Homo sapiens: one gene and its partners. The protein of the gene in region 3 interacts with the protein of the main gene of each other region in a biochemical or structural test. Each region holds a gene or a part of one and is shown on either strand. Other genes may lie near its edges.

The links.
Region 1: the proteins of APBA1 (region 3) and TJAP1 interact in a test that uses a peptide from one of them, tested with the Homo sapiens proteins (one study listed by BioGRID).
Region 2: the proteins of APBA1 (region 3) and CCS form a complex in vitro, tested with the Homo sapiens proteins (one study listed by BioGRID).
Region 4: the proteins of APBA1 (region 3) and CNTNAP3 form a complex in vitro, tested with the Homo sapiens proteins (one study listed by BioGRID).

The regions. Positions count from the first base shown.
Region 1 is NC_000006.12:43,499,616-43,507,184, reverse strand, and holds the end of TJAP1 (tight junction-associated protein 1), read right to left. Parts: intron 6,442-7,569; coding exon 6,413-6,441; intron 5,660-6,412; coding exon 5,498-5,659; intron 4,903-5,497; coding exon 4,836-4,902; intron 4,598-4,835; coding exon 4,568-4,597; intron 3,785-4,567; coding exon 3,677-3,784; intron 3,563-3,676; coding exon 3,479-3,562; intron 2,598-3,478; coding exon of another isoform or gene 2,577-2,597; exon of another isoform or gene 2,518-2,576; intron 2,425-2,517; coding exon 1,330-2,424; 3' UTR 631-1,329; downstream 1-630. UniProt on the Homo sapiens protein: Plays a role in regulating the structure of the Golgi apparatus.
Region 2 is NC_000011.10:66,601,872-66,607,290, forward strand, and holds the end of CCS (copper chaperone for superoxide dismutase), read left to right. Parts: intron 1-3,467; coding exon 3,468-3,545; intron 3,546-3,617; coding exon 3,618-3,721; intron 3,722-3,830; coding exon 3,831-3,984; 3' UTR 3,985-4,148; downstream 4,149-5,419. UniProt on the Homo sapiens protein: Delivers copper to copper zinc superoxide dismutase (SOD1).
Region 3 is NC_000009.12:69,660,288-69,669,371, reverse strand, and holds part of APBA1 (amyloid-beta A4 precursor protein-binding family A member 1), read left to right. Parts: intron 1-9,084. UniProt on the Homo sapiens protein: Putative function in synaptic vesicle exocytosis by binding to Munc18-1, an essential component of the synaptic vesicle exocytotic machinery. May modulate processing of the amyloid-beta precursor protein (APP) and hence formation of APP-beta.
Region 4 is NC_000009.12:39,284,298-39,293,274, reverse strand, and holds the start of CNTNAP3 (contactin-associated protein-like 3 isoform 1 precursor), read left to right. Parts: upstream 1-5,107; 5' UTR 5,108-5,210; coding exon 5,211-5,295; intron 5,296-8,977.

The DNA of each region.
Region 1 (7,569 bases), on a different chromosome or scaffold from region 3:
GCCCCAGATATCAGGGTCAGGCCCTGGGACTTGGGAGGGAACTGGGGTCAGGGGCTGCATGGGGGCTCTGGCAGCTCCTGGCAGTGTGGTGGGAAGGAAGCTCTGGAAGCTGTGACTGAGCAACAGCCTTGGGGGGCACTTGAACCCACGGCAATGCCTTTGAACTTGGCAGCTCTGGCTGCAACCCGCTGGCTCGGAAAAGATTTTATGAACTCCACAACCTGTCGTGTGGCTGTAGTCACTTGGGGCCGGCAGTAGGGGAGGAATTGGAACTACCAGTAAGCACCACTAGGGGGCAGTAGCATCGCACAGCCCAAGCTCTAAGCTGCGTGACCTGGTCCAGGATCTCAAAATAGGCCTGGCCAGGCCTAGAACCCAGGCCTCTGAGGCAACACCTTACACTAGCCCCATAAAGATATGGTCCCTGCCTCCGAGGGAAGACTCAGGAACCCTGCTAAGGTTACTTAAGGTGCCCCCTTTCCCGCTCCCTGATGCTCTGTGCCTAGGGAAACCCTAGGCAGAGTGGGGCGAGGGGGAGTCACTAGCCGACTAGGATGAGACTAGGACTGGGAATACTTATGAATGGGGAGAAAAGTGGGAGAGGGGAGGTCATTAAGACAAGTTAGGCCATACCAGTAAAATAGTTTTATTTGATTTTAAAATAGTCATCAATGTGAAAATTTCTCAAAGCTTAAGAGTAACAGTCTAGAGCCAAGGTTGGGAGTGGGGGCCAGGCCTCACACAGAGCCCAGCTTGAGGCCCCTGAGCCCCACCCTCCTTTCCAGAGGGAGGGAGGAGACAGCTGAGGGGGCCCTGAATCAGTCCTCTCCCTCGTCCCCAAGGCCAGCTGTGCCAGGCCCCTGGAGGGCAACAGCTCATGCGGAGGACTGGGGGGGGAAGCAAACAGGTAGGAAACGGAAATGAGGTTAACAATTACACCATCACCCCCAAAAAAAAACAAAATAACAAAACTTGTGACTATGAAAGGATGGAAGATGAATACTGATAAACTCCTCAGCTCCCCAGAAAAGCCCAGTCTGGGCTGGGTTGGGCTGATTGGAGGAAAGGTCTTGAGACCCAACTGCATGTTACCTCTGAAGAATAAATATTCTAAGAAAAAGGGAAAACCATGAGGCAAGCTGCTGCAGTCAGTCAACGCAGCTGACAGGCCTGGCATGGCCCACAACCTGACCCCATCCACACAGGAAACAGCTGTGCGGGTCTGGATAGAGGAGAGGTCAAGGGCTTGGACTGGGGACCCTGAGCTGCCAAGGTGTGGGGACTCCTTGCAGTCCTGGTGCAGCAATGGCAGGAAGGCCAGCAGGGGCCCTAGTTGAGCAGGTTGCCCTGCTCCTGGGCCTGGGTCAGGCTGTCCTTGCGGTGCAGGTGGTGAACCCCCATCCTCTTGGGGCTGCGCTGGGGGCGACTGGAGCTGGGGAGTGGCCAGGCCCTGCCCTCGGTGTGGGAAGTGCCTGGCCCCTCCTCTGTGCCCCTGTTAATGGGCAGCAGGCTCTGGCGCTCTTCCTCAGGACTGATAGGCAGGTTCAGCTCTTCTTCCTCCCTGGGAAAGCCAGAGTCAGGTTCTGTGGGTAGCAAAAGCTCACTCTCTTCGGGTCGGGCAGAAGGTGCCTGGACCACCTCATCTCTGTCAGCGGGGCTATGGGCAAAATGGCGCTGCAGCTCAGGGAGGGCATCGCGTCCAAAGGCTGTGCGCTGGGCCACAGCAGCAGGTGGTGGAGTACGGTCCACAAATGCCCGCTGCCAGCTGACCAGCAGGTCCTCTTCAGAGCTGGCAGAGCTAGCTGGGGCACTGAGTGTTAGGGGTGCTGGGCTGGGCTGGTGGTGGGGTGAGGCCTGGGCTGAGGCAGGGGTGCTGGGCACTGGGCTGGGGCGGGCCCGCTCACTCCCCTCCTCTACCAGGCTCAGGGAAATGGCCTGGCGGGTAGCGTAAGTGCAGTTGGGCAGGGGGCTGTTGCGGGGGATCCGAACCTTATCCTCAGAGAACTCTATTACCCTGCGGCCAGGATACAGTGGGTGTGGTGGAGACGGGGTTGGGTAGGGGTTCAGCTTCTCAAAGGCTGGCAGGGGCAGCTCTTCCTCCGGGGAGCCCCTGGCAGTACCCAGAGAGTGGCACTCCCCATTGGGTTGTGGGGTGGGGCTGCCAGGGGCCGGGGGACTGGCTGGATCACCTGGGACACCCTCACTCATGTCCACATGCACAAAGACATCCTCAGCCAAGGGGCGCCCGGCGCTGCCTGACTGGGCTGAATTGAGCAGTAGAGACTCCGGCTTCTCTAACACTCGGGCAATGACTGAGGTAGGCACCACAGCCCCTGGGGCTAGGCTGGGAGCAGGACCTGGGCTGGCGGCCTCTTGACCACTGTGCAAATGTTTCCGAACCATGTCCTGTAGCTCACAGGGCAGCTGAGGTAAAAGAGCAGGAAAGAGAGACATCAATGATCGCAGCCAAAGATAACTTGACTCATGGCGAAAGTAATGGCTCCCACCTTTAAGTACCTCTGTGTACTCAGCACTCTGCTATCTCCTGTTCTTACAGCATGCCAGTGTGTATACCCTCACTTCACAGACACATAGGCCTGGAGAGGGGAAGACAACTCAAAGCTTTGGTTAACTTGGCCAAGATTTAAACCCGGATCTGCTGCTGCAGCCAGCATGTTCTCAAACTTCTATCTCCCAGCTTCTGCCCAAACCATACTTAAGTTTGGAGAATCTGCATAGACCAGTAGCCTTAGAAATACCTCTACTTCTGGGCCGGGCACAGTGGCTCATGCCTGTAATCCCAGCACTTTGGGAGGCCGAGGCGGGTGGATCACGAGGTCAGGAGATCGAGACCATCCTGGCTAACACGATGAAACCCCATCTCTACTAAAAAGACAAAAAAATTAGCCAGGCGTGGTGGTGGGCGCCTATAATTCCAGCTACTTGGGAGGCTGAAGCAGGAGAATTGCTTGAAGCCGGGAGGCGGAGGTTGCAGTGAGCCGAGATTGTGCCACTGCACTCCAGCCTAGGTGACAGAGCAAGACTCCGTCTCAAAAAAAAAAAAAAAAAGAAATACCTCTACTTCTTCTACTTCTGCAGGCCACATAAACCTTGGGCCTGAAGCTGTGGGGTCTAGAGTTTACCCCTTGGGGTAACATGATCAGATGGGCCTAATCCTCTCTTAGTACTCTTTGGGCAGATAGCTCTGACTACCCTCTCCTTCCTGCCCAGGATCTTCTCTCTCTGTCTCTGTTACAGAAACCAACAGGGCTGGCCCCCCAGAACTAGTGATGGGCCCTGGACAGTACACGGGACACCAACCAGTGGCAGAGTTGACTGGCTTGAGAGGTGACATGGAGGCAAGAGGAGGGCAAAGTGGGAAGAGGAGGACAGAGAGAGGTGCAGAAACTGGAGTTAGAGGAGTCCTACAGTGGCCGGAATGGTCTATGTGGGCAGGGAGGGGGTGAGTTCTACTCACATCGGCAAACTTGTGGTTTCGGAAGTGGGACTTGTTGCACTTGAGGAGCTGTACAGCCAGGTTGCAGTCCAGCCGGTACCGCTCCTACAGACACAGACCTGTTTCAGAGCCCAGCCCAGCCCTCTCCAAGGAAGCAGGGCCGAGCCAGGACAAAGCTAGCCCCAGGTGAGGAAGGCCCGAGTAGTGAAGCGCACATACATTGAGCTCTTCCAGCTTGTTGATGGTGTTCTTGGCATCCAGCAGCTTGTTGGTCAGCTCCACAATCTCCCAGTCCAGCGTCTTCCTATCCATCTCAGCCTTCTTGATCTGAAGCACAGACTTGAGGTTAACCCAGCCCACACTCTAGCCAGCCCTTCCTCTCCCTCCACCTCCTCCCATCCTGGAGACACAAGAGGCCACAGGTGCTAGGGCAGCCAAGGCGGACAGAGCAGAGACAAATGACGGACAGACAGAAGGAGACTGGGCATCTCTCCCGCTCTCTGGACTGGCTGTGGGGTGGGGGCTTTCTTAGCATGACTTCCTGCCACCTGGGCCCAGGACACAGGCAGTATAAGAGCTGTCCATCCCCTGAGGTTCCAGGGGCTCTGGGCACCAGGCAAGGCAGCTGGTACCTCAACGGCAGTAACTGCAAACCAGGGGGCTGAAGCCTCCTATGTGTGCAGCTGTTTCCAGCATCAGGCTAGGAGAGGGAAGAGGAAGCAGGGCGCGGTGGCAGCCAGGGCACCTTGTTGAGCAGGGAGCAAGCTGCAGGCTCAAAAGTAGCCTTCTGATCTCCAGTTCAGGGACTGGATCTGCAGCCTCCCCTCCCCACTCCCACAGCCTGGGCTTGCTGCCACTGGAGCCAAGAAGCTTTGGGTGTTCAGTGGAGACATCAATCAGTACCTCTACCAGAGCCAAGGGCAGAGCAGGCTAGGCTCCCCACCTCTCTCCTGGGAGGGAGGCATTGACAGTTAAACGGGCCTCATACAGGGAAGAGAAAGGAGCGGGTGTACTCAAGGGGCACAGGGTAACAGCCAGGGCCCACAATCCCAGATCTCAGCTGAGGAGAAGGCCAGGGCAAGGGAGAAGACACACAAACTCAGACGCAACTGCAAAAATCCAGCTGTGGCTAAGAGAGGCCTGAGAGGAGAGTGCAGCAGCAACGGTGGCAGCATGAGGGGGAGACGAGGAAAGAAGAGAAACAGTGTGAGCATTAAGACAGTCTTGACTTGCAGAGCACACTGCAGTACCCCCACCACTGCCCCATCCCACCATCTCCCTCAAGCCCCAGGGCAGAGTGGCATTCCCCTGGCAAATCCTGGCCCCCTGCTATGCTATGAGCACAGTGCCCACCAAGCTGCCCTCCCAGACAGATTACCAGTGTGTGCAGCTTGTCCTCCAACTCCTGGTTGGTCCGCTGGGAAGCCGTGTAGCTGTTCTGCAGCCTGAAAAGGGATAATACAAGGCACATCCCTGGGTCAAGATCCTGTTCTTCAGGCTCTGTTCAGCCTCCCCGATAGGGGATCTTGAACATGTCATTCTCCCTCAAGAACTTCAGTTTTCTAATAGGAATTAGATGATCTCTAAGGCATCTTCCAGCTAACCTCCTATGAAAGGAGAGAGAGAGAGAGAGAGAGAGAGAGAGAGAGAGTGTGTGTGTGTGTGTGTGTGTGTGTGTGTCCCCGCATTCCCACACCTGCAGAACTTATCCAGTTTTCTAATAAGAATTAGATGATCTCTAAGGCATCTTCCAGCTAACCTCCTATGAAAGGAGAGAGAGAGAGAGAGAGAGAGAGAGAGTGTGTGTGTGTGTGTGTGTGTGTGTGTGTGTGTGTGGCCCCGCATTCCCACACCTGCAGAACTTATCCAGTTTTTTAATAGGAATTAGATGATCTCTAAGGCATCTTCCAGCTAACCTCCTATGAAAGGAGAGAGACAGAGACACAGAGAGAGAGAGAGACAGAGAGAGTGTGTGTGTGTGTGTGTGTGTGTGTGTGTGTGTGTGTGTGTGTGTGTGTGTCTGGCCCCTCATTCCCACACCTGCGGAACTTATCCTTAAATTTGTCCAGCTCCTCGCGGCTCTGGCCCAGCTCCAGCTCCAGGCAGTCCTGCCCAATTTCCAGCTCACGTTCCAGGGCCTCAGTGCGTCTGGTGGCGGAGGCCAGGCGCCGGCGAAGCTCTTCATTCTCCTCCTGTAAGAGCCTGGCAGGGTGTTGTGGGATCAAGGGCAGAGGGGTATGAGAGATAGAAGGGCATGCCCTGGAGCTCCAGAGTGGGCTCAGGAAGGAAGGGATGACATGAGGACAGGCAAACAGGACAGGGAAACTCCTGGAGTCTTAGTCTGAGTCTAAGGCAGCATATTTCATAGGCCTGCTGGCCCTGGGAACACAGCCTGGGTTGGAGGGTCAGGGGAGGAAGAGGGGATGGTAGGGGACAGTCCAGCCTCCCTTCACTATCGGAGAATAGAAATAAAGAATTGGGGGTAGGGATATGGCTCCCAGCCTGTCTCTGGTTACAGCCCATGTCAGCTGGCCACCAAGCCCCCAGCTCCAGTTTCCCCACTGCACAATCAGGCTTCTCCATTATTCATCTCTTGGAAATCCAGCCCAGCACTGCCCTCCTCTCCAGAGGCCTCATGTGGCTAAAGGGCTGTAAGGGTGGCAGCTGGTACAGGAGCCAGGAGCTGGGGAAGGGCTCCTTAGCAAGAAGAGCAGGGCCCTCAGAGCCATTCGCCTCCTGATTCTACGCTCTCTTGAAGCCCATGGAACAATAAAATCCCATTTTCCAGAAAAAATATCCACAACATCAACACTCCTCCCAGAGTCCCTAAAACAACCCATCCCAACCTTTATTTCTACCTAATCCAAGGGAAAGTCCAACTGTACCAACAGTCTAGCCTGGAGCTAAGAGGGACAGAGTTGAGGCAGGGCAGTATCTCAGGTAGCAGATACTCACTTCATCCTTTCTGCATCAGTCAGGGGTTCCTAGGCAAAAAAGAGAGGCTTGAGGCTCAGCTCTGGACCACTGGACCCCCGGCTGGCTCACCCTCCAAATAGCCACAAGAAGGCTCAGGTGTGAAGCCCAAAGACTCTTATAGCAGAAGAGGGCTGCAGGGCTCTCTACGGATGGAAGCAATTCAGTAATGCTGGGACAAGCCTCGACTACCCTCTCCCATGCCAACCAGAAGATTCAAGAACCTCTTCCAACCTTCACCCTTAATCCAATCCTAAAGCCATTTTCAAATAAGTCCTGGCACCCAAGCTACCTCTCCCCAGGGGCAGACAGCCTCTCAGCTGTTCACTCGGCTCCTGGTGGGTCCTGTATCCACAGAGGTATGGCAGAGACCTTCCAGAAAAGTCAGGCTGAACTATACACACGAGTTCTGAGCTCTGACAAAGCCCTCAGCCTTGAGATGAAGACAAAGGCAGAATCAGGCTCTTGCAGAGGCTCAGGAAGAACAAGTGCATGGGAGAAGAGGACTAATCCTGACTAAGGGGAGGAAGTGCCTTGTCTGTCTTTTAACCTCCTGCCCCATCTTCCCCAAACCCCTATGGCAGTCATGGCTCAAGAGTCAAGTTCAGCCAACCACAAAGCAGAGTAGGCCCCTGCTATCGCGAGAGGGAAACATCAAGGGGCCTATTCTATGTGGAACTGACTGCTTCAGAAGAGCAGCCTCTGGCAGAAAATGGAGGTAGGTGGCTTCCTTTGTCCATTGACTCTGACAACTGGATTTCACCCTATTCTACTGCATACTGATTATACAGCCTTCACCTCACCGAGCCTTAGTTCCCTCATTTATAAAACTGAGGTAATGCTCGCTGGGTAGCACCTAGCATAATAGCTGGCATCTTAATTTAATGTTCCCTGAACTGAAATGAGCAAGTCATGGCTTTTCTACCTTGAATCTGACCAAAGCAGGCTACAGTATGCCTGATGCTCAGCACATGCTGCGTCTCAGGTTCTTTAAATGTGCTCCACGCACTGTGACCAGATGGAGATATGGCTGCAAGGGCAGTAAACCACTGTGGCCCTCGTTTCTGCCTGTGAGTGAAGTTAATGGGGCAGGAGAGCCAATGTTTTGCAGCTGACTATAGGCCCCGAAGAGCAGAGTC
Region 2 (5,419 bases), on a different chromosome or scaffold from region 3:
TCTGCCACATTTTTTTTTTTTCTTTTTCTTTTTTTTATTTTTAGTAGAAACGAGGTTTTGCCATGTTGGCCAGGCTGGTCTTGAAGTCCCAACCTCAAGTGATCCGCCTGCCTTGGCCTCCCAAAGTGCTGGGATTACAGGCATGAGCCACTGTGCCCAACCACCCTGTCACATTTCTAATGATCAAAAGTTTTTACTCCCTGTTCTGGGAAATTGGAGAGGCATTTCTTATAGAGTCCATTGCACAGTGCCATGCTTATGCTCAGTGATTAGTAATCTGCTGCTGCAAATCAAATGACTCCAAAGTTAGGAGTTTAAAACAACAAACATATACTGTCTCTGGGGCAGGAATTTGTGTGTGACTTAGCTGGGTGCCTGCAGCTCAGGGTCTCTCTCGGGGCTGCAGTCATCTCAGGGCCCCACGTGGGGAGAATCTGCTTCCAGGTTTGCTCATGTTGCTGTTGGCAGGCCCCAGGTCCTCCTTGGCTGTTGGCCAGAGACATCAGTTCTTTGCCACATGGGTCTCTCCCTAGGGCAGCTAACAACACGGCAGTTGGCTTCTCTCAGAGTGAATGAGCGAGAGAGAGAGAGATTGAGATTGAGAGAGGGCGTCCAAGACTCAAGCCACATTCTTTTTGTAACCTAATCTTAGAAGTGACACTAGGTCCAGCCCACACTCAAGGGAGGCACATCATAGAGGCCATTCGCCTCATGCAGCCTTGAAAGATGATGGGCAGGAAGTAGGCATTGAAGAGGGTAAGAGTGGGATTGGCAAGCCCAGCAAAAGAAACTGCCCGGGCAAAGCCCTCAAGGCATGGAATGGCAGGGAGTGTTTCTGAAGGGCAGGAGCCTGTCTTGTGACCTGTGTTTTCTTCCTGGGCCCCAGGTGGGGCAGGGAATCAGAAGGGGCTGGCATCAGCAGCTGTACCTCACCCAATCCCTTAACTTAGACAAGGAAGAACTGAGCAGGAGCTGACCAGCCAAGGCCACGGTGACTGGCAAGTTGCTGTTGGGTTTTAGCATCTGCTTTTCCCAGGTGGAAAAGAATTCCATGTGGGAATTTGCATTCAAGCCTGGTTGTCCCTTGCACATCTCCTAACTGATCTCTAAGCTCCCTTCTGTTCTCTCCTCACCCTGCTCCAGTCTTTACTTTTCATAGACTGCACTAGAAGGATTGTTCTGAAGCCTGGAGTAACCAGGCCATGCCCCTGCCTGAAACTTGTCTTGGCTCCCAGTGCCTGAGAGTACAAGCTGGGCCTAGCTTCTTGATGTGGACATTCAATACCCCACTCCCCCTGCCTATTGCCCCTGCCTGTGTGCTGAGGAAACAGCCTGGAAAGGCTGCCTTTCCCTGAACTCCTGCTGGGTCATGCCTCCAGCCACACTGTCCAGGCTGCCCCCTGCCTTGAGGCCGCTCCTCCAGCCGGGCACAGTGGCTCACGCCTGCAACCCTAGCACTTTGGGAGGCCGAGGCAGACGGATCACTTGAGTTCAGGAGTTCGAGACCAGGCTGGCCAATATGGTGAAACCCTGTCTCTACTAAAAATACAAAAATTAGGCCAGGTGCAATGGCTCATGCCTGTAATCCCAGCACTTTGGGAGGCTGAGGCGGATGGGTCACTTGAGGTCAGGAGTTTGAGATCAGCTTGACCAACATGGTGAAACCCTGTCTCTATTAAAAATACAAAAGTTGGGCCGGGCACAGTGGCTCATGCCTGTAATCCCAGCACTTTGGGAGGCCGAGGCGGGCAGATCACAAGGTCAGGAGATCGAGACCATCCTGGTTAACATTGTGAAACCCCGTCTCTACTAAAAATACAAAAAATTAGCCAGGCGTGGTGGCGGGCGCCTGTAGTCCCAGCTACTTGGGAGGTTGAGGCAGGAGAATAGCGTGAACCTGGGAGGCGGAGCTTGCAGTGAGCCGAGGTCGCGCCACTGCACTCCAGCCTGGGCGACAGAGCAAGACTCCATCTCAACAAAACAAAACAAAACAAAACAAAACAAAAGTTGGCCAGGTATGGTGGCGTGCTCTGTAGTCACAGCTACTCGGGAAGCTGAGACAGGAGAATTGCTTGAACCTGGGGGGTGGGGAGGTTGCAGTGAGCCCAGATCGCACCACTGCACTCCAGCCTGGGCAACAGAGTGAGACTCTGTCTCAATAAATAAATAAATAAATAAATAAATTAATTAATTAAAAGAAATACAAAAACTAGCCAGGCGTAGTGGCGCGTGCCTGTAATCTCAGCTACTTAGGAGGCTGAGGCAGGAGAATTGCTTGAACCCGGGAAGCAGAGACTGCAGTGAGCCGAGATCACACCATTGCATTCCAGCCTGGGCATTGCAATGAGACTTTGTATCAAAACAAAACAAAACAAGCAAAAAAAACCGCTCTTCAGGGCTCTGTATCCCCTCCCCCTTCTTGATCTTTCTACTGTTCAAATCTCCAACGCAGGGCGTAAAAAAAAGTACCAGGTGCAGGCAGCAGATATCCCTCTGGAAAACGAGATAAAGCAGAACTGCCACTTCTTCCTGCCCATCAGTTGGTGGCACAGTGAGATGCCTGGTTACTCAGCAGCAAGGTCATGGGAGCCCACCTGTACTGGCACAGGCACTTGTTTCTGCCCAAAATGTCAGGTTGGGGACAATTTATTTGCACAGATGTGGGTTTCTGTGGCTCACTAGTAAGGCCTTGTCACCCCAAAACACACCAACTGTTGTATTCACCCTGTGTGTCATCACCCCTAGTCTGTTCTGTATCTGGGCCCCCACCATGTTCTGAGTCCCTTGAGGATGGTGACCTGCATACTCCCTGCCATGTTGGGTAGTGTGTCTGACCTAGGAGGTGCTCATAGGTGTGTTATGACAATTTTTATTACCGTCAAAGGAGAAGGAGGGCAGAGCCAGCTTCGAGGGGCTAGGACAGGCCCTTTGCCCCTTGCATTTCCTTCTGTTCCTGGAATCTGGGAGTCAGGGAAATGACACTGGCTGCCTATGATGGTCAGGGAAGCCAAGCTTGGCCAACTTAAGCCTATAGGAATTGAAGACAGCCAAGGGCTCACAGAGCCATCAGGAGGCTGCACAACTGAGCTAACTGGAGGCTGAGAAGCAGAGCTGGGCAATTGCCTCGCCGGAAAAACAGTCTGATCCAATGGGAATGACTGCACAGGCAGGGGAAACTTCCACTGGCTCTTTTCAGCCCACTGTCATCCTGCCCAGGATTTCAGTTCCAGGGAGGGAGTGTTCAGATGGTCCGGGACTTCCTGGACCACTTTCCACTTCCAGACAGGGCCAAGAGGACCTTGCCTGCCCAGTCCTTGGGGAGCTCAGATCCTACGAGACTGGTACCCACAGGAGGAAATGGGTACTTTAGGGAAGCAGGAAGAGGCGTCGGAATCAGGAAATCAGAAGATAGCAGCTTGGCACCACGTGGCACACATCCCCTATACACACACTGGATCTCATTCCAGCACCGCGGAGACCTGGGCAATGTCCGTGCTGATGCTGACGGCCGCGCCATCTTCAGAATGGAGGATGAGCAGCTGAAGGTAAGGTGGAAAAGAAGGTGGGCACCCTTCCTAACAGGGTCCATCATCTGAAGCTGTCGTCTCCCCTCAAAGGTGTGGGATGTGATTGGCCGCAGCCTGATTATTGATGAGGGAGAAGATGACCTGGGCCGGGGAGGCCATCCCTTATCCAAGATCACAGGGAACTCCGGGGAGAGGTGAGTGGTGTCGGCCCCTGTAGGAGGCTGTGCTCTGCGGATGGTGCATGAGGAACCCAGGGGTGGGGGCCAAACAGGTACCCACCCCTGACCACACATTCTTCTGCAGGTTGGCCTGTGGCATCATTGCACGCTCCGCTGGCCTTTTCCAGAACCCCAAGCAGATCTGCTCTTGCGATGGCCTCACCATCTGGGAGGAGCGAGGCCGGCCCATCGCTGGCAAGGGCCGAAAGGAGTCAGCGCAGCCCCCTGCCCACCTTTGAGCAGGACCTCACCTTGGCTCTGTTGCTGTCCTCCAGGGCGAGCACTTTCCACTTCCAGAGGGGGCCAGAGGGACTTTGCCTGCCCAGTCTTTGGAGAGCTCAGTACAGGGCAGGAGCTGCTGTGGTGTTCCCTTGGCAAATGAAAGTTTTATTTTCGTTTGGGACTTGGTGTTTTGTGCTTGTCTCCATGCCCCTTATGGGCTTGGTGAACATAGCTCTGCTTCTTTCCTTTGTATCAGGGCCACCCCTTAGCATTGGAGCCAAACAAACCTGAATTCAAACCTACACACACACTGAAGTCCCCATCTTCCTCCTTGGAGCCATAATGAAGAGCCACTACAGTCAAATTTCTGTTTGTGGCCTCCCCCAACCCCTCACTATGGCTGATTGGAACCAAAATGGACACCTGACCCATGGTGGCCCATGCTTTCCCTGAGAAATCAGGGCAGATCCAGCTTTAGTTTTTTCCTGTGGTTGGACCCATAACATGGGAATATGGGAAGTTTTGGTGGCCCTCTTCTCCCTGCCTTATTGACTGAGCATCAGAAAAAGCCAGTCGGCTAAGGAGGAAAAATGAGGCAGGGAGAATCTAAGAGTTGCTGGAGAATCCCAGTCACTCTGGAGTCCCCTCTCTGAGCCTTTCGTGAGGCCAGCTGCCTCCTGCCTGGGATTGAAGAGATGCTCCCGAATCCTCCTAATGCATCCCCCTGTTAAAATAATCTGGCTTGAGGCTGGGCACGGTAGCTCACACCTGTAATCCCAGCACTTCGGAAGGCCAAGGCGGGAGGATCTCTTGAGCCCAGGAGTTTGAGACCAGCTGGGGGAACAGAGTAAGACCCTGTCTCTACAAAAAAAAAAAATTTAATTAGCTGGGTGTGATGGTGCATGCTTGTGGTCCCAGCTATTTGGGAGGCTGAGGTGGGAGGATTGCTTCAGCCTGGGAGGTTGAGGCTGCAGTGAACCATGATCACGCCACTGCATTCCAGCCTGGGCAACAGAGCAAGACTCCATCTCAAAAAAAAAACAAAACCAAAAACAAACAAACAAAAATCTGACTTTATTCCTTTCAGTCATAAGTAAAAATTATCAATTAACATAAGTGAAGTGCTTGGCACACAGCCTGTCATATAAAGTTAAGGGAGCAGCAGCTATGATTCTGAGGCTGCGTGGGACCCTCGGAGGCAGCCCTAGCCAAGCTCCCCTTTCCTATGGTTGGATGAGCTGCTAACCAGGGTACAGTTTGTGGGGCCTCGGGTTCAGAGCCTCCCTACTCGTCTATTATTTCCCTGTACCCCCATCCCCATGGGGTGCCTTGCTCATCCTTGACAAAGCTGCTTTTATGACAGGGTAAGCTGGCAGACTACAAACTTTGCCCCAAGCTGGCAGACTACAAACGTTGTCCCTACACTGCCTGCTTGGAACTGGGTGGGTGGTT
Region 3 (9,084 bases):
GTTTTGTTTTGTTGTTATTGTGTTTGTTTGTTTCGGAAGACTTAGGGGTAAGAGATATTTGAAAATTGACCTCTGGGGCCAAAAGGAATTAACTGTAGTACCTTGGGGAGATAGGACTTTTATCCTAGAAAGAAGAAGTAATTGTTGCTAAAATTGAGAGAATTTCAAGCCGTAAAATCTGAAGTTAACTCTCTGGGTTACAATAATTAATTTGCAAACATTTGTTAATTGCCTCCCGCATCTCAGATCCACTGTACCTTTGGATAGGGGACAGGGAATGTTGAGAAGGGTTGGAGGTTCAAAGAATGCTAAGTCTTAGATCCTGGCCAGAGGTGGATCATGATCTAGAAGGAGAAAAGAGGAAATATGTTACTAACTGTAAAAATAGTGAAAAATGATTAAGTGCTGAAAAAGCAGTATTCCTGCAGAGCTGTGGGAGTTCACAGGGTACAAAGTGACTTCTGATGGAAGAATTAGGGAAGGTTACATGGGATATAGCATTTGAGCTGTGATTAAGGTGGCATTTGGGTTGGCAGAGAAGGAAGGGCATGCTTGGGGGAGGAACAGTGTAGCACAGGCCTGGCAGTGGAAGGTGTATGCCTACACAGGAAACAAAAAAATGGTGTGCTTTGGCTGAAGCGCTAGGAATGCCAAGAGATGTAATGAGGGATAAAGCAAGAAAGAGAGGTTTGTTCAAGGTGGTGGAGCAACTTGTACGCCAAGCTAAGGAGTGTGGATTTTGTTCAGTAAGGACTGGGGAACTATAGAAGATTTGTGAGGAGAAAGATTGACAGTATCAGAACTGTGCTTTGGGGCAATACTTTTGTAGTATTATGTTGGATGGAATGACATGGGAAAAGGCTGGCAGGAGGGAGACCAGATAGACTCTATTGTCAAAGTAGGGGAAAGATGGAAAGAGGCAGTGGGAGGCAAGAAGGGAACACACCTAAGAGGTGGTGTGCGGGAATTATCTGAGGAGCTTGAACAGTCACTGGAAAGTGAGGAAGGGAAAAGGGAGGCCAAAAGATCATTGTCAGGCTTAGCTGAGAGAGCAGTTGGGTCATTTTCAGAAAGAAGATATAACAGAGGATAAGGAAGAGGAGAGAAGTTTCTTTTTGAGCATGACAGGCTTGTCCAAGTTAAGGGACTAGAATACAGAGGGAGGTTAGAGCTACCAGGAGATTTGTAGGTCATCTGCTTAGGAGCGATTTTCATATCCCAGGAATCACTGATAAAGAAAATGAAGAAAGAAGAAGCAAAAGTAAGGATAGGATCCTTGAGGGATGTCTGTATGTTGGAGGGGAAAGAGAAAGAAGAGGACAGGAACCACGTTAAACAAGGGGCAATTGGAGAAAAATGATGGAAGTGAAGTGGTACAGTGTCATGGAAGCTGGAAGGGGTGAGGAGAGCCCCTGTCACTCACACAGCACACCCCATGGGTGACGGTGCAACCAAGGCAAAGCCATTGGATTTGACTCTTGGATTTCCTTGATTGTCTTTGTGGTAGGTGGAAGTGGCAGCCAGGGGCAAGGGTTGAAGGGAGGCGTGGGGGAAGGGAAATGGAAAGCAGTGAAAACAGACTTCATTTTCAATAAGTTGGGAGATAAAAGAGAAGGAGAGAGAGTATGATATATCACAACAATGGTGTAGTAGAGGGAAAGTGGTATTTTTAGTATAGGAAGACTTGAGCCTGCTTTATAAGCTGAGGAGAACAATCCATTGAGGGAAAAAGAGATTGAAAATGTAAGGGAGAGGCTCAATTGAGGGAATTAAGTCTTCAAGAAGATGGGAGGATACTAGATGAAAGCAAAGGAAGGATTCTTTTGAGACAGAAGCATAGGAATTTTGAGGTGGAAAGAAAGGAATTTGGCCACAGTCTTTTAAGTGAGGTCAAAGAGAGGTGGGCAGGTTGAAGCCAGGAGTAGAATGACAAAGACTTGTGGGCATTGTGGAAACAGAGCAGTGAGTCAATTAGGAGTGAATAAAAGATCATTACCCAACCATGAGGACCTCATGTGTTTGAAAAGCAGGAATTTGTAGTGAAACCAATTAACGCTATATAATTGGAGTTTGACAACTACTTAAGTAATTTTTGTATAGTGAGCATTTAATCTCACTAAATACAGTGGTTCTTCATTCCCTTAAATGCAGTAAAAAGAGGAGAATGTTTACCTTTAAAATTATCCAAATAAAAGACTCCACTTGTATTTCCTGTAAATATTCTCTCTCAGAGATCTGAGCTAAATTTTAAGAAGTTTATAGTAAAACAATGGGGAAAAATGTAAGTGTTTTTTTAAAGGATGAGCTTTTTCTATCTGTAATGGTAGAATATGGTTTTACAGTGACGTACATGTAAAGTCAGTTTTCAAAAGAAAAATCAAATATAGCACCTCGCCCAATACCATACCCATCATATGCATTCAATATACATTTGTCACATGAATACATGAATAAACTTTTTTTAAGTAAGCTAGCAACAGTATCTAAAATTTTAAATTTCAGGATTTCATTCTTACACAATGGACATCGAATGAGTTGCCTTTTATGGCCTGTGCAAGTTTATGATAGCATTAAAACTATTTATTCATACCTGATATATACATTGAAGCTTTATTTTTAAAAACCCCACATTTTTCACAAAATGATTGTGAACCCTTTAGATCCTTGAGTTATGGGATTATGTCATGATTCCAGGTGAGTTTATGGAACTTCAACTGTAATGAGTGGTGATTTTGAGGTTTTAATGATGAAATTTATTCATTCCTTCAACATACACTCATTGAACACTTTCTCTGGGCCAGAAACTATTCTAGGTGCAAGGAATATGGGGTGGGGGGAGGCATGTCCTTAATATCACAGAACTTTTAGTGGAAGGAGATTAAAAATAAATAAATAAGTAATTACATAATATGCCAGGTGGTAAGTGCTATGACGAAGAATAAAAGAGAGAGAGCAATGGACTGATGATAGTGGGTGGGTGGGGGGTGACATTAGTTTATATAGTATGGTCAGGGAAGACCTTAAGCAGAAAGAGCTGAAAGATGTGAAGTAGTGAGCCCTGCAGATATTTGGGGGAAGGGTCTTCTAGGCAGAGAGGATATCAAAAATGAAAAGGCTGGATAAGAACATGTTTGGCATCCTCAAGGGACAGCAGGGAAACCTTATTGGTTTCCTTGGTTTACCTGGAGCAGTCACTTAGGGAATTCACAATAAAATGCTTTGCCTTTCATTTTCAATTGTTTGCCCATAAGGCTGTATTACCATCTACTGTATTTGGGCTGACCTATGAATCAGTACTGGGTTTATATAAAGATGAATATCCTCAATCAAATGTATTTAAGTTAGAAAACAATCATGCCTGTAATCCCAGCACTTTGGGAGGCTGAGGCAGGCAGATCACTTGAGGTCAGGAGTTCGAGAGCAGCCTGGCCAACATGGCGAAATGCTGTCTCTACTAAAAATACAAGAATTAGCCGGGCATGGTGGCGCATGCTTGTAGTCCCAGCTATTTGGGAGGCTGAGGCAGGAGAATTGCTTGAACCTGGGAGGCAGAGGTTGCAGTGAGCCGAGATCACATCAGAAAACAAAGCGTGATTCTGTCTGGGTAGTGATGAAATACTAGTCAGCTGGAAGTAGTTCTGCTCCTTGGAACTTACATCTCTTCTGTGTCCTGAATCTTCTTTAAATATTGCTCTCTTTTCTTCTTCCTTGTTTCATGTTCCATTCTCAAGTATAAGATCCTTGAGGCTAGAACTTTGTTTTGTTCATCTGGGTATACTCTATAACACAGACTGACTCTCTGCATTAGTAAGGGTTTATCAAATACTTACGGAGAGGAATTGATGAGAAATTTCCAAAGATTTAAGTAACTCAGGTGTAAAGAATGAGGGTAAAGCTCGTTTACCTTGATTTCTGCAGATAGGTAGCTGTTTTTCAAACAGGACACAGAATTGCCATAGGATGCTAAAGCAGTTTATGCATGCAGACCCTGAGATGAGGACTTGAGTTCAGAATAGTTTATCTGAGAGACAACCTCAAGAAGCACAAGTGAGAGAATGGAGAAAATGACACAGGAGAGGGAAGAAAGCCCATTAAGAGGTGAGTTAATGAGCAGGTTACCACGGTGGGCAGCTGAGGCTTGGCTCTGCTGGCATTATATAGACTGCACATTAGGATTGTCCACCAAGCAGTGGAGAAAGTGGGGTCTTTATCCACCATTTCCCTAGGGATATTAAATCTTCAGTACTTTAGGGCTGCTAAGATTAGCCTGAGCAAGCTCCAGAGACACCAAAGAAAGCTCTTGAGCAGAGAAGCAGAGAGGCAGAGCCAGGTGGAAGTGGGAAACTGTCAGTGTATTTGGAGACTGTCGATACAGCTATAGCTGAACTCAGAAGTGGACATGGGACCCCTGTTTAACACAGCACAGAGGTATCATAAAGAATTTTTAACAGATAATAATTGGTTTGATGGCAGTTATTTTAATTTAGGGATTTTAATGTATTGTGACAACTGCCTGCAGTTCTGTTCACTCACAAGCCAACTATTGGCCACCCTCAGTTATCTGAGGTGCAGAGTACTATATATGCTCATGTGTAAGATACGCTCTGTTATAGGGTGGCCCTCAGTTTTCCAACAAGAGCGTTTATAAAAAGACTTTATGTCAACTTGAATATGCATATTCTAGGAATATAGGCAAAGAGTGAAGTATCTACTTATGTTTAATTTATTAGTTTACTTTCATATAATTGAAGTCACATTATATAAAATTATTAATTTAGAAATATGACATCCTTCCATTCTCACATTTTATGAAATCATTTATTCAAATACTTCACATACTTTTTTGACTTTAGAGTCTTTGTCATGATTAGGCCACTTTTGTCATGTTCATTTCTATCTAACTTTTTTGAGATATAGTACTTCTTGAGTTTCTGTATGATGCTACCACCACAAACTTTATTCCAAACCCTGTGTGCTCATTCACTTAATGTAAGAACGTTTGTTTTATCCTTTCTTCCTAAAGGAGTATATTTATGATCTCTGCAACCCAGCACTTCTGTATGTCTTGTGTAAAGACATCCAAGACAAGCAATTGTAAAGCTCCTTCCCAGGAATATTTACTTCAATTGGTGTTAAAATCATGGCCTCCTTTACTCTGTATTCATTCAGTCATTTATCTTCTTTCAATTGCATAGCCTTCAGAAGTATCCCTATCTTGTGTTGATTGAGTTTATTTCCGGCTATCTTCTCCAAATAGTTCTTAAGTAACCTCTGAAACACACAACTCCTTTTCATGAAATCTGCAGTCTTACCAGGTAATATGTTTTTTCATGGTTTCTCTCTTTAAAATCAGTTGCCGTCACATCCAGCATTAGTGAATTACATGGCTTTCAATTTCTGTTATCTTGGAGGTAACAGGGTTTTTGGCATTCAGAAGAAGGTAATTAAGAGAATACCCCACAATATGGGAGACTTTGTAAGCATTTATACATAAGGCAACTTTCTCTTTTCTGAAATACACATTTTGGAGGACAGAATCTCATCTTTTTGTATATGTAAAGTGATCACAGGAGGTTGTCAAGGTATGGTGGCAAAACCAATCCCTACACACTAAGTTTCCTTTTCAGCCTCCTCTTCTGTTCCATGTGGATTAATTAGCATACAATTTGTATGAAAAATACAGCAAATACAGCAATGATTTATTTCCTAATGGAATTAATTGGCCACCATTCCAAATAATGTAATCGTTATGTTTCTGACTATTGATAAATTTTGTATCTCGAGATCAATTCTGCATTTATTAACAGGCACACTTTATTTTAAAGAAGGATAATTGCCAAAGTATGTATAAATTCCTTTTTCTTGTAAATTGTAGCATATTTTAAAAGCAGAGGACGAGCTTAGAGTCATTTAAGGAAATTCCACTTAACAAGAATAATTACCCCCTACATTGGCTATTCAGTGAATTTGGACTTTTATACTGGACTTTACTAAAGTGGGTTGCATTCTGTTGCAGTGGCTTTTACACACTTTTGGCCATGATTCCTGGTGAGAACACAATTTAGATGATAGGCTAGCAACATAGATGAATGTGTGTAAACACATATACACACACACATACATCACTGAAACAAGTTTCACTCAACAATACTTGTCCTTTATTATGTGTAATCCACCCTGATGCTTCCTATCCTATTCTCTTCTGTTCTGTATGTTTGCCAACCCACTGAAGTAATCTCTGCATTGGTGAACCCTAATATGCAGTTTAGAAAACACTGCTGTATTGTATTACATTTATCAGAAGAGTGTTTATTTTCTTATAGTATGAAATAATTTCATGTCAAAAGTTGTTTTTTCGTTTTTTGAATTGTTAGCATATTTGGATATTTGGTGGTATGGACAAATGATGCAGTAATCACAGAGAGAAACTTTATTTTTGAGTAGACATTTTGTTTCCAAAAGAAGAAATTACATTAGTGTGGAAAAGGGAAAGTGGAGTAAGAAGAATAGATTTGTTCTTAGATCTGTGGCTTTCTTGGGTTGTGGGGACCGTGTCAAGTCACTGGGCCACAACCTCCTTGCTGAGCTGGTTCCTCACGATTCTTTCCTGTCCTTCACTCTTCCTGCCCCTCTTCCTAGCTGCTGTCTCTTAGCCTCTAGAGTTCTGGATGTTTAGTTAAATTACTTAATTCTAAATTTTAACCTAATATTATTTCTTCCCAGATGTGAAAATAGTTTCTACGCCCACTTCCCTTCCAAATAACTTGAAAATATAAGAATCATTTTTCCCTGAGCTAGTACCTGGAAGAGTTCTCTCCTAAAGGAGCTAGAATTTGTTCTACAGATGAAATGTTTCCATAGTATTAGGTCATATGAAAGCTTAACCTAATCTTATGTTCAGGTATGATTGTGTTCTTTATGGCAGGCTAGCTATCAAAGTACACATAAATTCCTTTTTTAAAAGCTCAGCAGATTCCCCATCCAGTGACTAAAAACAAGTTACAAAGTGTCAGGCATTGCGCTAAGTACTGTACACAGCTAACTCATTTACTTCTCATAATGACCTAATTTACTCTTCATAACCACATCAGGAGAGAACTTATATTGCAGATTGGACTTTGAGGTTCTCAGAGGTTCCTCAGTGGCTACAAAACAGGACAAAGGGGATTTGCCTCAGGTCTAGGCACAGGAATGGGCCCAGACAGTTGCTGGTCCTGGAGTCTATTCTGTCCTCTGGGCCCAGCAGTAGCTTCCCATCCCCACTGCCCCATCTTGACTCTCTTGTTTATGATGCCTTCATCCTACTTGGGATGTCTGTGTGTGTGTGTGTGTGTGTGTGTGTGTGTGTGTTACTGTTTGTCTTAGTCCATTCAGTGTTGCTATAACAGAGTACCTGAGGCTGGGTAACTTACAAAGAAAAGAAGTTTATTTGGCTCACAATTCTGGTGGCTGGAGAGTTTAAGACCAGGCAGCTGCATCTGGTAAGGGTCTCATGCTGCTTCCACTCATAGTGGAAAGTGGAAAGACAGCGAGTGTGTGCGAAGAGATAACATGGTGAAAGAGGAAAGGAGAGAAAAACCAAGGAAGCCAGATTCTTTTTAACAATCCACTGTCTAGGAAACTATTCCATCCTTGCAAGAGTGAGAACTCATTCATCACTGCAGGAGGACATTCATCTGTTCATAAGAGATTCACCCCCCATGACCCATGCACCTCCCAATACTGCCACATTGGGGATTAAATGTCAACATGAATTTTGTGGGGATGAACCACATTCAGACCATAGTACTGTTGCACCGACATCTCTCCATTCTTGGCCCTGTGGGGTGGCAAGGACTCAGAATGAGCTGGAATACAGTGCTGCCATAATTAGCCATCAACAGTGAACAAGTCTCCAGGTTGGTCTGAGCCTCAGCTTCTCCAGCTACAAAAGGGGAAATGATGAAACCTGCCCTTCCCATCTCTTCCTGCACAGGGCCGCTGGGGTCAAATAAAATATGAAAGGGTACAGAAAAGTAAGGTAGATGTCTCACTTCCTTCATCATGACATTGAACGAAAGTGACTCCCTACCTAGTTCTAATAGCTAGTGTCTCTTTCCTCTAAACCAGAAGTTGACAAACTTTCTCTGTTTAGGGCTAGTAGTAAATAGGTTTTGTGGGCCATATGGTCTCTGCCACAACTCCTCCACTCTGCCCTTGTAGTGCAAAAGCAACTGTACACAATATGTAAACCTATTAGTGTGACTGTATTTCAACCAAAGTTTGTTTATGGATGCTAAAATTCAAATTTCATATCATTTTTGCTTCACAAAATGTTGATTTCTCATTTAACTTTTTGCAACCATCTAAAAACATAAAAAACATTCTCAGCTCCAAGGCAGTACACAAACAGGCAGTGGGATGGATTTGTCCCACGGACCTCAGTTTACTGACCCCTGATCTAAACTCTCACAGTGCTTTGTACCACTCTGGATTCCAGCAGCTCATGCTCATCTTTTCCATCTCTCTTGTCCTTTCAAAATATGCACCCACCCACACACTCATTTTTTCATCTCCCTTAACACTGAGAAAGATAATAGCATATGTATAGTATGCCCCCCACATGTATATTCTATATGCCCAAGAAATATTTATTGAGTAAATCAGGATTAAAAATCTGTTGCTTTTGTATGTTTCCTGTTTTTTCATCTTTAAAGGAAATTCCACCTATTCTCTAGTAAAGCTTTGGGAATGATTGAGTTAAGATTTTGTGATTAAATATAAGGCTTTGAGATTCTTGCCTTAAAGTATTTCCCCCCTCTGTTATTAACCATAAAAGGAAAAGAATGTCAGGGAGGACAGAGAGGAAAAGCAAACAGACAAACAAAACCAACATTTCAGCATGAAAAGCGCTTGTTAGATGATAACTAAAGTGGCCAGATGTTTAGCTTTGCTCCCTTGGGTATCCTGCCACTATAGGGAACTCTGAACCGGCTGAAGTGTTTCATGCCTCAGCTGCCAGCAGCCCTTGGTGATATGCTTTCCCCAAAATTTAACATGGGGGCCAGAACTCCATGCATTTGACTATAAATAAAGAGGACCTCA
Region 4 (8,977 bases), about 30 Mb from region 3:
GGCTCACTACAAGCTCCGCCTCCGGGGTTCAAGCGATTCTCCTGCCTCAGCCTCCCAAGTAGCTGGGACTACAGGCACTCACTACTATATCCGGCTAATTTTTTGTATTTTTAGTGGAGATGAGGTTTCACCATGTTAGCCAGGATGGTCTCGATTTCCTGACCTCGTGATCCGCCCACCTCGGCCTCCCAAAGTTCTGGGATTACAGGCATGAGCCACCGCACCCAGCCAAGAATGTTTCTTTCATACGTGAGCACATAGGGTATTTCATGTATTAGCATTAATGTTCCTTATCAAATATGCAATCAGGGGCTCTCTATAGAATCAATTTCAATAAAACAGTTAAGCAATTTTTTAATGGAGTAGGCATTGATTATAATTTTCTCCTCTTCTGACTTTTCAATTCTTCCCAATTAGCCAGTGATAAGAAACTGGAAAGAAAATTTCAACTTGTTTACCATTCACTTGTTTTTTTTAACCTACTGTAGTTTGGAAGGATTAAATTTTAGGCTAGCTGATTCATTTCACAAAAAAATTTATAAAATTTATAATTCATTTCGCACAAAAAAAGTTTTAATAAAAAATATTTCCCTTTGTATTTGAGCTCAACTTAATTCCCAATTGGCCCTGAAATGTGAGAATTGTTTTCCTAAAATATTGATGGATGTCAGAAGGCCACAAGAAGTGAGACCTCATCTTTTTTGCTCTATGAGAACATCAATCTTTCTATTTCTGTGAAAAATAAGGAAAGGTAGGTGGACTCTGGTGATTTCCTGATGTTGAAGTTAATAAAAAGCTCCATTCAAAACTACGATATTCGGCACAATTAATCTTCCCTGTTAATATAAACAGAAGAAAGAGTAAACTATTTGACCTCAAAGCTCTGGTTTAATTTCTAGCAAGTACGATTACTTCGGTTCACAATTTAAAAAATAAAAGCTTTAGATTTCTATTCCAAGCCATTACTTGATAAATCATTCATTAAAGAACATGAATGCACAAAACAAAAATAAACTTTTTTTAAAAATTTGGTAAGTGTCAGTGTTCTAGGATGTGCTGGCCATTCTTTGTGGAGGTCCTCAGAACCACCCTCTACTCTTCCAGCCCCAGTGTCACCCTTCCTGCCCGAGTGTCACCCTTCCTGCTCGAGTGTCACCCTGCTCCCCTCCCAGCTGACTTCCAGTTGGTTTTGGCTAATGAGAGACACCCACAGAAACAGTAAGGTTTCAGAAGTCAGAGCTCAAAAAGTTTCTTCCCTACTCACTCCTGTTTCCAGGTTCTGACAAGAAATTCTTTTACTTCTATGACTGTGGCTCCTGCCAGACCTTTGTGTTCCCCGGCTGCTGCCTTCTGGGGATCTGGCAGCAACCGTTCCTCCCTCTGCGCCTCTGCTGTAGGTAGTAAAGGCTTTCTGCTAGTGCTTGTCTTTGGTTGCCACAATGTCACCTGGTGGGTCCCTTCACTTTTCTTTTCAGCCTGTCCCTTTAAACTATCTGAGCAAATCATGCTTTCTTTCTGGGCCTTGACTAATGCAGTAGTGCATTTTAAAAATCTGACTAATATCACATTGCATTGCTTAGAAAAATATCATAAGAAAAATAATTCTTTGAGAAGTAGCATATTTGTGAAAGTAGATCTATTTAGGAATTAAAATGCTATTAGATTGGCAGGCAAATGTTATATTTTTGTATTCTCACTCTATTTTCTAGAACTGAAAACTAAGTTCTAGCTTAGACTGCAATGCACACGGTATACTACAAAGAGAGATGATAAAATTGCAGGATGAGAGTATAAAGTACAAGGTAAAACCTTATTGAAACAAAATAAGCACAACTCTATGTACAGGTTGTATGTGTTTATATATAAGAGCCAAGGCCGGGTGTGATGGCTCACGCCTGTAATCTCAAGACTTTGGGAGGCCAAGGCGGGTGGATCACTTGAGCTCAGGAAGTTCGAGACCAGCCTGGGCAACATGGAAAAACCTTGTCCCTACCAAAAATACAAAAACTTAGCCGGGTGTGGTGGCACTCACTTGTTCTCCCAGCTTCTCAGGAGGCTGAGGCACAAGAATTGCTTGAACCTGGGAGGCAGAGGTTGCAGTGAGCGAAGATCACACCACTACTGCACTCCAGTCTAGGCGACAGAGCGAGACTCTGTCTCAAAAAAAAAAAAGAAGAAGAAGAGCCAAAACAAGGATACATAAGGATACATACCAGCCTGTCAGCCTGTTTTGTATCATTGGTTACCTCAGTGGGGTTGGGGTGATGGTAGTGGCAATTATTAACATTTTCTTTATACAATTCTTTTAAAAATGTTCCTTTTGTAATTCAAAATATTCAAGAACAAATTTCAAAAGAGTCTGTCTTAACAAACATTTACATTCTTATAATCCAGAAGCTAGTCATCAAACACACCTCAGTATCATCATTTGTTCCAATATAAATATACTCACTTCCTAAATATGTGCTATTGCAAAGTAGATCTTATTCCTTTCTTATTCTGGTTGAATCATACAACCATTATCCAGATTGAAATAAAAAATATAATTGTATTTATTATCCATGTTAAGGTTAAATAGAAGGTAAGAAGTTTCAAAGTTTAAATTGCATTATCATGGAAAGTAGGGAAGAAAGGAAATAAAGCAGCAACACATAAAACATTTATATTTGTGATATTCGATATTTTTTCTGGGACATCCAGTGTTCTAGTTACATCGGCCATCTCGAATTCATGTCTTCATTTGTTCAGTAAGTGTGTAGTGTGTGATGATTGTGACGGATGCTTCTCTACTAGGCAAAGTAATTTTTAGAGCCTCACTACTCTTAGTCTGCAAAGTTCATTGCCAGCATTATCACCACAGCAAGTGTCTATGCTGATTTAAATAATAACCATATAGCAGCAATTATAGCCACATAAAATGCATTTCAAGACACACATTTATGTTTAAGGACTTCAAGTCCCCTAACCAAACAACTTAAGTAGAATAAACCTAAATAAGTTTTAAGTCAAAAGCAGGGGAATCAAAACAATTACAAGCCTCCTGTCTTAGAAGAAAATGCTGATGCTTATTGGCTTAACCATATAAAATAGTGTATATACATTTACTAGACATGAACAATTTGGAACAAATTTTGAGTGTACCTATAAGTGTGTAAAATGTATATTTTATGTATTGGGAATAATATTCATAAATATATTCCTCCAATGTTGTAAAAAATGCATGCACCCTCACTACGCTAGTGATTTTACAGTTTAATGAAGCCATTTTGTTTTAATTGCAAATGTCTACCACCGTAGAAGTTTCTTGGCCTTTCTCCATTAAGCCTAACACTTTGAACACCCAAGTTCACTTTTTTTTTTTTTTGTCTTGAGACGGAGTCTGGCTCTGTCGCCAAGCTGGAGTGCAGGGTGCAATGTTGGCTTGCTGCAACCTCTGCCTCCCGGGTTCAAGCAATTCTCCTGCCTCAGCCTCCCGAGTAGCTGGGACTACAGGCAGGCACCACCACGCCCGGTTAATTTTTTGTATTTTAATAGAGACAGGGTTTCACCGTGTTGGCCAGGATGGGCTCCATCTCCTGACCTCTTGGCCTCCTCCGCCTCCCAAAGTGCTGAGATTACAGGCATGAGCCACTGCACCCGGCCAAGTTCACATTTTTAAAGACTCCATCTGATGCCTGACAAATTGGTATAATAATAGATTGACATTTGTTGTTTTACTCTAGGTCCAATTTAGAAAATGATTTCCATTTTCTCTCTTTCTGTCTCACTGAAGGCAACTGATCTGTCAATCAAAACTTTAGATTTATAATTTTTTCTGTAATAAAAGACGTGCTATTTACAGAGTTCTTGTGCAAAAGTAGTTTAAGTGAACCCAATTAATAATTCAAGAATGACTTTGTAAGATTCTTCATCTATTACATTTGAATTCATTTTACATTTTACATCTATTACATTTGAATTCATTTTAATGAAAAAGCCTTTCAAAGTTGTCTTTCTAAAGGGAAGATTAATACACTATTTCTTAGAGATACCATCTAAAAAAGTATCTTTCTTTCTTTTTTCTTTTTTGGAAACTCGCGGTGGTGGTAATGTGAGTGAGTTTGTCAATCTTTGCCCCTACTGTGAATTTGAGAAGCAGAGGAAGAGAAAAAGAGAAAGACCCCCCCCCCCGCCCCCTGCCTCCGCCCCTCCCTCTAGCACACAGTAGGCGCGCAAGGAGTGCAGTGTTAGCTGCTGCTGGACTGAGCTCCTCATCCTACACTTGCAGGGGTTGCTCTTTTGGACAGAAAGCTGGAATAAAACGTAAATTTTAGACTTCCACCAAGGCCAGGACTAGGGTGAAGGGACTAACGCACTAGTCTCAGGAGCAACTGTTAAGTAACGCTAATCCTGAATGAATGAAATAGTTTTAAAATTGAATGTAATCGCAAAGAAAAAAAAACCCATGATAGACAAAATATTAAAACTTTAAATAAAGGCTTGCACTCGCACAACCCAGGCTCACCGGCCTCTCCCTGCTCCTGGCCCGGTTTCCCAGCTTGGTTCTCTACAAGTCAGAATTCCTAGCAAAATCAAAGTGTGCGCGCGTCTGCCCAAGTACACGCCGCAGAGTTATTTCTGCCCCATCTTCCCTATTTGAACTCAAACAGGACAGCATTTTCCTGGGTGCAGCCCCTGCGTTGGGTGAACAGCGCAGTGATAAAGCCTGGCGTTCTCCACCTGCAGGCGGAGGCTGACGGCGCGGTCTTTGGCGCGAGTCCGTGCACCGCGGCCGCCCCGCCCCGGTGGGAGAGAGGGACGGAGGAAGCTGCCGGTATAACGGGAGGAGAGCGCCAGGCGGAGCTGGGGCGTCCCTCCCGCTCGCTTCTTGACTCGCGTTGCTGCCGGCCGCCTCCCGCGCCTAGTGTCCGGGACGCGCCTGAACCTGCCGCCTCCGTGCCTGGGGTGGCGCCGCGCGGCCCCGAGCGCTCCAGAAAGCTGCGGCGCGAGTCCGCGGGGCCGACCTCGGAGACGCAGCTGGGGCCGGGCGCGGCTTGGCGGGAGGGTCTGCAGCGCCGAGGGAGGCTGCTGGTGCGTGAGGAAGAGAGCTAGAGACTGGACAGGGGAGGCAGAGCAGCGTCAGAGCCGCGCAGGGGACGGGAGTGAGAGCAGGAGCGACGCAGAGCGGCCGTCGCCGTGCCCGGGTCTCAGGGCGCCTGGCTGAAGTGAGCATGGCTTCAGTGGCCTGGGCCGTCCTCAAGGTGCTGCTGCTTCTCCCCACTCAGACTTGGAGCCCCGTGGGAGCAGGAAATCCACGTAAGTACAGCAAATGGTTTAAAACTTGCGCTAGGCTGTCTGGAAAACTTTGTTTTTTTTTTTTTATTATCGGTAATATTTGGAAGTGGAATTGCAGAACATGCTCCTGAACATGAAGAACCTTAAAAAAAATTTGGAATTGCAACCCGAAAAAGACGATTTTGTTTACAATAGACTTTCCTCTTGTGGGGGAGTCTAAGATATACCATGCATGTTTTGACTTTTTAATCGATGTACTTGAATATTCATTGAGAAAGTGGACGTTTCTGTAAAACCTGAAAAGCATCTTAATAAGAGATTAGCGTGCAAATGCTGTCATTTATTCCTTTTTAGGATTGTAATATTTTGTAGGAATTAAGTCTAACAGGGAAAAAACTGGCAGACATTACATCATACTGCATCAACTTAGATGTTAGCAGCTTACAGTTTTGCCGACCTTGGCAGCTTCAGAGTTAAAATGCTAATTAACTTCCATGCAGTATAGGGACAGAGCGCCTGTAGGTGAAACTAAATTAATAACCTGTCCTAACTACTAAGGGAATAACACTTGAACACCCCTGTCAGGGGCTTCGTTTCTCATAGTAGAAAGTTCTTGCTTAAAGACAAAACTCAGCCAGTCATTTAGGTGATCTTGAAAATGATTCCTCTCTGGATGCTAATATTTTACATTATTTAATTTGCCATCAGGTTCCCTGTTTTTTATTTTCCTTAATTTGGTAAACACCTAGGAAGCCTTTATTTCTAGAATGGGCTATGATTCTAATGTAATGATGATATTCCAGACAGATGAGCAAAACATAATGTACCCATATTTTATCACACATAAAAATGTTTACACAACATTGCACATTTTTTTTTTGGCTTGGAGTAAATCTCTAGCAGAGAGTTGTCTTTCTTTCTTGATTAATCAAACCATGAGATTAGAATTTTTAAAATGTCTTCCTCTTCCTTCTCAAATCACTTTTATTTTTCTTTCAGTGGCATCTCCCCGCTGTCAGCCTCAGCCCTCTCCTACCAAAATCTCTTTCGAAATAAGTTCCAATAAACGCCAGTGGCCATGTTTGGAAATTTAGATTATTGCAGGATAACCAAGGGTAGCTTTCAGCAGTTCTCCTAAGCTGTCATGAAAAGTTTGCCGTAGCTCAGTGCTGTTCTGCCCGCGGGCTCAAGGGTGGGTTGGTTCTTCACACACAGGGCACGCACATGGGTTCATGAACTCACTGTGCATCATGATTCAGTTGCGCCTCAGTTAATCCTACACTTGGTGTGCCCTTCCAAAAAACAAGCTCCGGATTCCTTTGGTCAGATGCTGTACCGTGTTTCAGATTCAACTTTAATCTGCTTTTGTGAGAAGGCTTTGTGAATAAAACGTTGTTACTTAAATCAAAATCCTTGGGTCTTGTAATGGAAACTGCCGTTTGGCTTAAACAAACATATAAATGAGCTACTTATAGAAAGGCATGCTAGAGTAATTGACCAATCAACTGGCAAAATACAACAACAAAAAAAGTCACTAGAGGTCACTCTTACTATTGAATAAACAGGGCTTCAAAAAGACCTTCCTGGAGAAAAGCAAAGCAATGAAATCTGAGTGAGACCCTGCCACCACCTTTCCTGTTTTTGTTGCATAGTTGTGATTACTTTTTATTCTCAGGATTAGTTGTATTGGTAGTTATTTTGCTTGGAATCCAGTGGAAGGATTACAAAGCCCATAGAAATTAAGCTCTTCTCGTTTATAGTGAACATTCTTTTTGGAGGAGGGGAGGGCAGGGACAGATATTCCAAATGGACTCAGCACCAGACGGGACTCTCGCGAGTTGCTGAGTGACACGTGAAATTTCAATACTACTACTGTGGGTGTTTTCAGTCTTCTTTCGTTGATGAAACTTAGTATCCTCATATCTAATAAATTTTACTAATTTTAAATTACCTTTTAGATCAAGTAATTCTTCCAGATAAAACTATGTAACTGTAATAATTATACCACCTTCAATACCAAGAAGAAAGTCAATAAGGACATCTAAAAGTTTCCTTCTCATGTAGACACCATGAGTTGCTCACGTTATTCACAGCTGGTTTTCGAGAAGCACATTGGCCACCCACGAAGGCAACCTGTTGATGATGGCATGAAATGGCTCTTCATGGGAAGAGCTCTATAGGCCGGGCACAGTGGCTCGCGTCTGTAATCCCAGCACTTTGGGAGGCCGAGGTGGGTGGATCACCTGAGGTCAGGAGTTGGAGACCAGCTTGGCCACCATGGTGAAACCCTGTCTCTACTAAAAATACAAAAATTAGCCGGGCGTGGTGGCAGGCATCTGTAATCCCAGCTTCTCGGGAGGCTGAGGCAGGAGAATCGCTTGAACCTGGGAGATGGAGGTTGCAGTGAGCCGAGATCCCACCATAGCACTCCAGCCTGGGCAACAAGAGGAAAACACAAAACTCTGTCTCAAAAAAAAAAAGCTTTCTAAACATTTGGCATTTTGGGGATTATGTGCAGTTTATCTGAATGTTATTTGACCCGACAAATACATGGGAAAGCTTTGTTAGGAAGATTCTGCATGAAGGGAAATATTTTCCTAACTTCAGTGCCCATAGACTTGCAGTGAGTGAAAGGTCACTTACTGCTCTCATTGAGTCCCTGAAAACAGCAGGAAGCATCAAGAGAAAGATTGAACGCTGGGCACTGATCCCAGGGATACACAAACAAATGGCTGGGCAGATTTTGCAGAAATTCCTGTAACTGGTAAAATGCTGAGTAATAGCCTTTGATGTAACTTTTCAGTGGGTTAATTTATTCATTACTTAGCCTAAAACACTTTTAATTTTAATTGCCTCAATTTTTTCCCCTAAATGGTTATGTTTTGCAAGTTCGCCAGCCAGCCTGGGGAAAGAAGGGTAAGCCTACTATAGAGTGTGTGTGGGTTAGTTAGGAAACTCACTTAGATGTGAAATGTGTCAGGAAAGAGATCTCACAGAGTGTAGGAATAATTATTTTTACAGATGTTTCATTTTGGACCTTTTAGTAATACCATTTAAAGAGAGATTCTGCAGATGAGTAACAGACTCTTAATTTTAGTGTCAAATGGTACTCTATAAAAAATGGAGTTCAGGCCAGGCGCGGTGGCTCACACCTGTAATCCCAGCACTTTGGGAGGCTGAGGTGGGTGGATCAGTTGAGGTCGGGAGTTCGAAACCAGGCTGGACAACACGGTGAAACCCCGTCTCTACTAAAAATATGAAAAAATTTCAGGGCATGGTGGCAGGTGCCTGTGAGGAGGCAGTGAGCTGAGATCGTGCCACTGCACTCCAGCCTGGGTGACAGAGTGAGACTCTGTCTCAAAAAAAAAACCAAAAAATGTAGTTCAGTTGCCTTTATTCATTTTCACCAAACTCTATACAAACAGTACGGAGCATAAGTAGCCCATGGAAGTGATAATCAATTCCAAGACATTGGTTTGATCATGAAAAAAGAAAAATCAAATTACTTGGCGTTCTTCTTCCTCTTCCTCTCCCCTTCTCTTTTTGAACAATTCAGTCCAAGGTCATTCAGTTCAGCTTAGGCATCCATGCTGGGTAGTGGGGAGGCCCAGGACCGTGGCAGAGCATTCAGAAACCAGCAGGGTAAGGAAAGCATCCACAGTGTAGCAAGGGTGGGGACCTGGAGAGACAGGAGACAGCACTG